2 separate regions of the Homo sapiens genome follow, and region 2 is linked to region 1. Evidence: fine-mapped expression QTL. A gene starts in region 1. The other region holds a variant in brackets. All regions are shown on one strand. Distances are between the middles of the regions.

The links. PIP is the estimated chance that this variant, and not a neighbour inherited with it, causes the effect. A credible set is the group of variants that fine-mapping cannot tell apart.
Region 2: its variant is the best candidate, but not a certain one, in a credible set for the expression of LINC03100 in whole blood (INTERVAL, PIP 0.88).

What each region holds. Positions count from the first base shown.
Region 1 is chr2:242,086,358-242,090,750 of GRCh38, reverse strand. It overlaps LINC03100 (long intergenic non-protein coding RNA 3100), which reads left to right and starts at 2,186. Exons shown (of 1, transcript NR_186294.1): 1 at 2,186-3,400. It overlaps LINC01881 (long intergenic non-protein coding RNA 1881), which reads right to left and starts at 2,118. Exons shown (of 7, transcript NR_130702.1): 1 at 1,950-2,118.
Region 2 is chr2:241,832,726-241,837,118 of GRCh38, reverse strand. No RefSeq gene overlaps it. Among named protein-coding and RNA genes, the nearest start is that of PDCD1, 24 kb to the left of the region's middle. RefSeq lists an enhancer at 2,407-2,907. The variant C/T (reference allele first, on the strand shown) is at 2,616.

The sequences.
Region 1 (4,393 bases):
CTAAAAAAATGTGAATTGCTAGAGCTTTGTACGCTTATTTTAATTAAAATTACCTTTATTTTGGGATTTGCAAATACAAAAAAAAACTAGAAATTACTCCTGAAAATTATTAAACTTTTAAGAGCAAGCACTCAAAGGGTGTAGCTTGTATAATTTGCAAATTTTAAGCACATTTTATGCCAACTTATTTCAGACAGCCTACAATGATTAACTATTTTAAATCTTCCCTTAATTTCTATTTCATGTGGTAGGACATGTGGGTGGGGTACTTCAGTAGAAAATGACTTCATGAAGTTCATTTGCTGGTGGAAACTCTTGGCATGAGAGACTCAGAACAAAAAAAAAGTCTTTCCTTCAACAAGCATATTTTTTCTTTACAATAATAATGGCAAACATTTATTAGAGCTTACTATAGGCTATGCATTACTCTAAACAATCTACATATGTTGTCTCATTTAATCCTCATGCTGTCCTCCAAGATAGAAAACATTATTCTTGTTTTACAAGTTTCATTATCTATTTTATAGATGAAGACACTGAGGCAAAGAGTTCAGTGGAGCTGGGATTCAAAATGATGGAGTCTCACTCCGGGATCCATGCTCCTACCCACTATGTTTATAATAGCAGTTCCTGAAAACCCTATTAAAACAGATGCCATTAAATTATAAGCCTTTTAACTTTTTTTTTTACCGTCTATTACAGATCACTAATATGATTTCAAGTAATGATGAATCTAAATATAAAGGCACTAAAACAAGGAAAACAAGACAGGAAAGAAAACTCTAATCCATTTTAAAAGACCACATGTGTTTCCCTATTTGTTTTGCTTAAAAGTGTGGACAAATTTGATCCAGAAAGGACATTTAAAAAAATGGCACACTGAGGGCTGAGAGTCAGAAATAAGATTTACTGTAAGGACTTACAGATAATCACAGATTCCTCATGGGAAAGGTAAACATGTAAAGACGAGGAGAAAACAGAATATGAAAGAGTAAACGTCTTTTTTGATTAGGGCCGGATGGTAAGGATTTGGAGGCAGCAAGAGACAGCTTCATAAGGGAAGAAATGGTTCTCTAGATTCTTTAGTCTTCAAAATGAGTTTGAATAGACCCAAGGACAGAGGTGGAATCTAATTGAGAAAAAGGTCAAATTGAGCTTACTGTGAGGGGAAGGATGCAAAATTAGTGTCTGCTGCAAGAAAAATAAGCATGGAAAGAAATTAAGGGAGGAGACAGAGACAGAGCCAGAGCCACAGACCAGGAGTAGGGAAAAAAAGGTAAGCAGCAGACGGGGCAGAGTGGCCTGGAGGAATGAGGGGTCACACCTAGCAGGTGCCCACCGGCGAAGAGGCAAGGGCCGAGCCCGGAGGGCAAACGCCGGCAGGAGTCGTCCCCGAAACACCTTGCCCAGCGAGGCGGACACAAGCTCGGGCCTGCAAGACGGCCCAGGAGGGTGGGGGCGGGAAGGGGTCGCAGAAGGTGGGCAGGGGAAGCGGCTGAGGACACGCGATGCACCTGTGGGCGGTCCCCGTGCCCACCTGACTCGCCCGCAGCTCCCTGAATGAACCCTCCACACCCGCCGGCCGCCCCCAGACCCCACCTGACGCGCCCGCGGCCCATCGTCCCTTCCTGACGCGCCCGCGGACCCAGACCTCAGCAGACGCGCACGCGGCAATCCCGTCCCCATCTGACGCGCCCGCGACAACCCCGTCCCCACCTGACGCGCCCGCGACAACCCCGTCCCCACCTGACGCGCCCGAGACCCCCGGTCCCCACCTGACGCGCCCGCGACCCCATGTCTTCCCCTGACGCGCCCGCCGCCCCCGGTCTTCACCTGACTCGCCCGTGGCCCATCGTCCCCACCTGACGCGCCCGCGATCCCCAATCTTCACCTAAGGCGCCTGCGGCGCCCAGTCTTCACCTGACGCGCCCGCGGCACCCCGTACCTACCTAGCGCGCCTGCAGCCCCCAGTCTTCACCTGACGCGCCCGCGTCCCCCAGTGCCCAACGGGCGCGCCTGCCACCTGGGCCGGCACCTGACGGCGACCAGGCGATTATTGCCGGAAGTGGGCCACCGCCTCTCGGCGCGCCTCAGGGAAGCCCCGCCCCTGGCCATGCTGATTGGCCGGCGCGGATTCGCGTGGCAGTGTTGCTGCCGGGTCCTGACGCCCGCAGCGTGCGCCTGCGTAGTAGGCACTGCCCCGCCGTCCGCGCGCGCCCAGAGTGCCGGGCGTGGAGGTGTGGGGGCGCGGGGGCGCGGGGGCGCGGGGGCGCGGGGGGGCGGGGGCGGGGGGGCGCAGGGACGGGCGCGGTCAGTGCCTGAGATCCCTGCGATCGCTGGGAGATGACGGTGAAGACCTGAGATTTAGGCCTGCGCGGCGGGTGACGACGCCGGTCCGGGTCTTCACTGGAGGACGCTGGCCGGGGCCTTCAGGTGTTCTCGTGGCCTGAGGACGCGCGTCCCTGAGAATGTGCGTGCCCGCGCCGCGCGGGTCCCACAGGAGCCTGGGCAGCCCCGCCGCCGCATTTCCACCCTGCGGCCGTATTTCCACCCGCTGGGCGCCAAGCCCGGGATGACTGCACTCTAGGGCATCACTGCGCGCTCACACTCAGCATTCAGGCACAAGCACGTTCTCTTTATAAACAGTTTCGAATCTTGTCGAGTCTTTCTAGAAGGTTGAAATGCCCTGGAGGAGCAGCGTGAATAGTTTTTTCCAATTAGGAAAAAAGAATGTGGGGCGGCTGGAGGGAGAGAGGCAGGCCGAGAAGGCCAGGTGCGTCCAGGAGCCGCAGCCCCCGTGCCTCAGTTTCCTCCTAGAAACATGGAGGTGGCGGTGCACGCTACAGGATTTCTGTAAGAACAGATGAGTTAACGTGTGCAAAACATTTAAAACAGTGTCTGGTGTGTAGCAAGCAAATATGAGTATTAGTCTTTTCCTTGTTAAAATGTGTGCATCTACATTTGGTGCACATTACAGGAAGTGTATAGTATGGATTCATATTTTGGAAAAGTAATTTTAGAAGTTATTTCTGATGTGCTTATTGTAATAGTGTTTCTTGACCACATGCTTTTAGATAATGTGAAGGCAATGAAGCAGGCAATATTGCTTGCACATCCCCAATTTAAACACCTGTCTGTCCCTCCTTCCCTCTCTCCTTTCTTTTCTTCCTTACCCTCTCTCTTTATTCCTTCCTTCATTCCCTTCAAGGTTGCGGATTATTCCATTATATAAATGTATCAATTTATTAGAATAGTTTCTATGATGTCTATGATGGGCTTTAGATTGTTTGCAATAGTTTGCCATTACAAATAATGCCCAGTAGTGCTGTGGTTTGATTTAACTTGTGAAGGTATATTTCCAAATAAATCGCTATGATTGGATTGTTGTGTAAACCAAAAAGTGTCTGAGGCAGATCACAACTGATATAGAGGTTTATTTTGCCAAAATTGTGGATTTGCCTGGGGAAAAAGAAACACAGGTTACAGTAGGATTTTTGGCCTGTACTTTTTTCCAAATATTTAAGGGAAAAGCGCCGGTAGGAGGGGAAAGAGGGGAGAGTAGGCTATGAGGCAAGTGGTCACATTTTTGTGAGGCTCTGATTAGAGTACAGCAAATCTACATTTCACATGTGAAAAGAAAGGTATGGGGGAGGGTTATACATCTGTCTCATACTCAGTAGATCTACATTTCACATAAGATAAAGTAAGCTTTTGGGAACAAAAAGAAGGCATGTATGTGTGTGTGTGTGTGTGTGTGCGTGTGTGTGTGTGTGTTGCCAATATTAACTTTTCCCTTTGGCATAGTAAGTTTGGAGGCCTGAGATTTTATTTTTCTTTCACTGATGTGTCAAGATTAACTGCATATGGAATACTAGTAGAAATTGCCAAGCCAAGACCCCACCACCACAATAGGGGACATAGTAATATTAAATTTAGCCCAATTGGCCAGCATCCACACAATTCCTAGTGAAAGAATTCCTGGCTGGATGGTAAAGAGGTAAACTAACTGCAGAAACTCACAAAGCAACAAAAGAAGTCCACAGAATAAGAGCAGGAATTCAGAGAGTAACCACAGAGAGATCCACAGAGTAACAGCAGGAATTCACAGAGTAACAGCAGAACCCACAGTGTAACATCAGAGCCCACAGAGTAACAGCAGAGCCCACAAAGTAACGTCAGAACCCACAGAGTAACAGCAGAGCCCACAGAGTAATGTCGGAACCCACAGAGTAACACAAGAGCCCAGAGAGTAACAGCAGGACACACAGAGAAATAGCAGGAACCCACAGAGTAACATCAGAGTCCACAGAGTAATATCAGAACCCACAGAGTAAAAACAGGACCCACAGTGTAACATCAGAGCCCACAGAGTAACAGCAGGAATTCACAGAGT
Region 2 (4,393 bases), 250 kb after region 1:
ATCTGAATTAATATAATTTGCTCTATGTCTTAGTACTATATACTTTAGATGTTTAGCTACCTGTGAGCTTCCTTTTCCTGTTCTTATCAGAACTGAACAGCGCTTATTGCCTTTGTATTTAAAGTGTTACTGATTCTTTGTTTTGTTTTCCAAAGTCAAGAAAACCTTTTTTCTTTTAACCTATTTATAGGTGACAGAAACTGAGTAAAATAACAAAGTTCAGCTTTCTCTCTCTACCTTCTACCTCCAGAATTCAAAAACTATTCATGAGCATTCTTACTTACAGCAATATGGTGGTTTGCATAAGTTCAATAAGAATACATTTTCTTTTGTAACAGGACACTTTGGGGATATTATTTTAACAAGACCTTTGACTGAAATAACACTTTCCGATAAAGTTCCAGCAAAGCCAATTTAAAAAGAGCCTACACGGCCAGCTGCTATTCCTGCTGCAATTTACACAAATGATCAAGCCAAATAGAATAAGACTAAAACTTATTTTGTACACAAATTGGTCTTATTATTATTTCTCTGTGGTAGAAAGGGGGAACTAAAGAGATGAAAAAAATTACGTTTCAAAAGAAAACACTTGTTCTGCAATTCCAGCCCCGACCACTGTTCTTGAGTTTTATTTTTTGCCTATAATTCAAACTGAGTCTTGAATTATCTCTTGGCTACACATCTCTAAAGAGGATCCAGGTTGTAATTTTCTTCATGATCGTTTTAGTTGGCTCCCTAATGGGGTTGATTCCTTTCTTCCTGTTAGGGGCGCATAAATTCTTGTTGAGAGGCAAAGCCAGCTGGACTTCCTGGGTGGCGTGGGGACTTGCAGAAATTTTCTGTCTTACAAGAGGATTGTAAAACGCACCAATCAGAGCTCTGTAGCTAGGATTGTAAAACGCACCAGTCAGAGCTCTGTAGCTAGCAAGGGGATCGTAAAACACATCAATCAGCGCTCTGTAAAAATGCACCAATCAGCGCTCTGTAGCTAGCAAGAGGATTGTAAAATGCACCAATCAGCGCTCTGTAAAATACACCAATCTGCACTCTGTAAAATGCACCAATCAGCAGGATCCTAAAAGTAGCCAATCACAGGGAGGATTGAAAAAAGGGCACTCTGATGGGACAAAAATGGAACATGGGAGGGGACAAATAGGGAATAAAAGCTGGCCACCCCAGCCAGCAGCAACAACCTGCTCAGGTCCCCTTCCATGGTGTGGAAGCTTTGTTCTCTTGCTCTTCACAATAAACCTTGCTACTGCTCACCCTTTGGATGTGTGCCATCTTTGAGAGCTGTAACACTCACTGCAAAAGTCCGTGGCTTCATTCTTGAAGTCAGCGAGACCACGAAACCACCAAAGGAACCAACTCCAGACACATTATGCCTGTACGTTATAATTCTACCACTCAAATTATTAATGCCATTTATCTCTCAAATCTCTCTCATTCAAAGTCTCCTGGAGCTGTTGCTGAAGCTATACCATATCAAGCACCCTCTGTCTAGGCCCAGGGACTGCTGAGGAAGAGAAGGGGGCGTGAGATGGTAAGGGCTGGCTTCAAAGGATAAAACTAGTTCAGGCTGGGTGCGGTGGCTCATGCCTGTAATCCCACCACTTTGGGAGGCCAAGGCAGGCGGATCATCCAAGGTCAGGAGTTCGAGACCAGCCTGGCCGACATGGTGAAACCCGTCTCTACTAAAAATACAAAAACTAGCTTCACATGGTGGCACGCGCTTGTAATCCCAGCTACTCTGGAGGCTGACGCAGGAGAATGGCTTGAACCCGGGAGGCAGAGGTTGCAGTGAGCCGAGATCATGCCACTGCACTCCAGCCTGGGTGACAGAGTGAGACTCCATCTCAAAAAAAAAAAAAAAAAAAAAAAAAAAAAAAAAAAAAACTAGCTCAGACCCTCCAAATCAAGGACAGTGCATAGATGCCTGCACTGCTGACAAATCAAGGGACTGTGCCTCCTGGGCCATTAGGTGGTTCCCTCTCCATCCCTCCAACTCTAACCCTCTAAAGAATTTCCTGCTTCCCATAGACTTAATTACCAAGAGGATGTAATGACACCTAGTGACACAGCCTCCAGAATACAGCTGTTCCCAGTTATGGGATTTATACAAATAGAGATACAATTAAAACGGTATTGGCCGCCTTAGGACAAATTACTAAAAAGACCACAAAAAGCACAGCAGCATATCAAAGTCTCTAAATTCCTTAGCTGAAATGGTTTTAACAAAATGCTTACGTTTCGTGTAGCTAATTGCTACAAGTCAGAGACTGAGACCAAAATTATGATAGCTCAACACTTGGAACTTATAGATAAGCCAGTTTTGTCACTTCGCCTTTTGGCTTTTGGTTTTCAGCTCTTATATTACCTCCAATTCCGCCTGGCCCAGAACGTTGAGTTGGCTGTAAGTCTTTTAGCTGTAAGCCCCTTGGCAATCAGGGTTCCACTGAAGGGCTGGAGGGACCAGGGCAGGTAGCCCCACCTCCCCCAGCAACAAGGTGGGCCAAGATAAAGGTTTGGCCGTGGATGCTGCCTATGGCAAATCTCAGCCAAAAGCGGGAAATGGAGACGAAAAATAAAATTCTAAGCCACCCAACTGACTGAAC[C/T]GACGGGCTCCTCACCCCTTGGTCAAGGGGACCCCAGAGAAACCTGAAAAATGGAGTTCTCAGCCCTGAGGGGACAGGAGATCAGATGCGTCCCATGACACCCCTCCCCTGTGTGGTTAGACGCAGCAACTGCCCAGCATGAGTGTTGAGATAGAGAACATCGCCTGGCAGAACCGACTGTGGCCATAAGACGCCACATTATCAACGGGACCTGAGGCCACCCCAGGCAGGGGCGAAGTCACACACGCTGCACTTATTTATGTTCTACCTGCCACGGGAGTTTTCTTTTTCTCTGACACCCAAACGCTGGCCTTGAGACGAACAACGTTAAAGCAGGTGCAGCTCACCCCCTGCCAGACACTGCCTCGCTGACCCCTGCTCCCCCAGCCAGAACCACAGCTGCCATCGGACAACAGCCGCATTTCAGTAACTGTCCCCTGAGCAGGGACCCCCAGCCCCGGACTGGTTCTGGTTTACAGAGGCTGCGCACCGAGTGCTTCCCGTCCCGGCTCCACCTTCTGACGTGCAGGGCCTGATTGTAACGCAGTTAGATGTGCAGTCTCCACCCCAAGGTGAACGTGGGTGGTATATAACATGCCCGTTTATTGTATGCAGTGTAGGACTCTCTCATAACTATTCATAAGATGTTTCTATAACCTGCTGAATATGCATATGTGTCCGGCTCATTCAGCATAAATTCCGTTCCACCCTCCCCTCTTTCAAAGTGCTTACTTTTGGTTTTCAGCTGGAGCTTCGGCTTCCACCTGTAGGTTGTCATCTCCTTCTTAAGAAATAAAACTCTAAATTTATAAAGTGCGATTTTTAAGTCCACAGCTCCTCTCACTTACTAATATGAGTTAAGTTTCCTCCGTGCTTTTGAAGGGCTCGATGGCTCATTTCATTTAGTGCTGAGTCATCTTCCATTGTCTGGATGGACCACGGGCTATTTATCCACTCACTTACGAAAGGACATCTTGGTTCCCTCCACGTTTTGGCCATTATGAATAAAGCTGCTATAAATTCATCCTACGCAAGCTTTTATGGGTACATAAGTCTCCAACTCCTTTGGATAAATACCAAGAGACACAATTTCTAGATCGTATGATAAAAGTATGTTTAGTTTTGTAAGAAACTGCCAAATTTTTTTCCAAAGTACCATTTTCCCACCAGCAATAAATGAATGAAACGTCCACGTCTCCACCAGCGCTTGGTGTTGTCAGTGTTTTGGATTTGGGCCATTCCAGTCGGTATGCAGTAGTGTTATTTAATTTGCATTTCCCTGATGACATACGGTGTTGAGCATCCTTTTTTTTAAGACACAGGGTCTGGCTGTTGCCCAGGCTGGAATGCAGTGGTGCAATCACGGCTCACTGCAGCCTTGAACTCCTTGTTTCACACAATCCTCCTGCCTCAACCTCCCAAGTAGCTGGGACTATAGCTGTGCACCACCACACCCAGATAATTTATTTATTTTATTTTTTTTTTTAGGGATAGGGTGTCTCACCATGTTGCCCAGGCTGCTCTCCAACTCCTGGCCTCTGTGATCCCCCTGCCTCCGCCTGCAAAGTATTTTTTCACATGCTTATTTGCCATCCATATATCTTCTTTGATAAGGTGTCCTTTCAGATCTTTGGCCTGTTTTTTAAACAGATTTTTTTTTATTGCTGAGTTTTAAAAGTACCTTGACTATTTTGAACACTGGTCCTGGTCCTTTATCAGGCACGAGTTCAGTGAAGATTTTCTCTCAGTCTGTGGCTTATCTTTTCTCTGTCTTAACA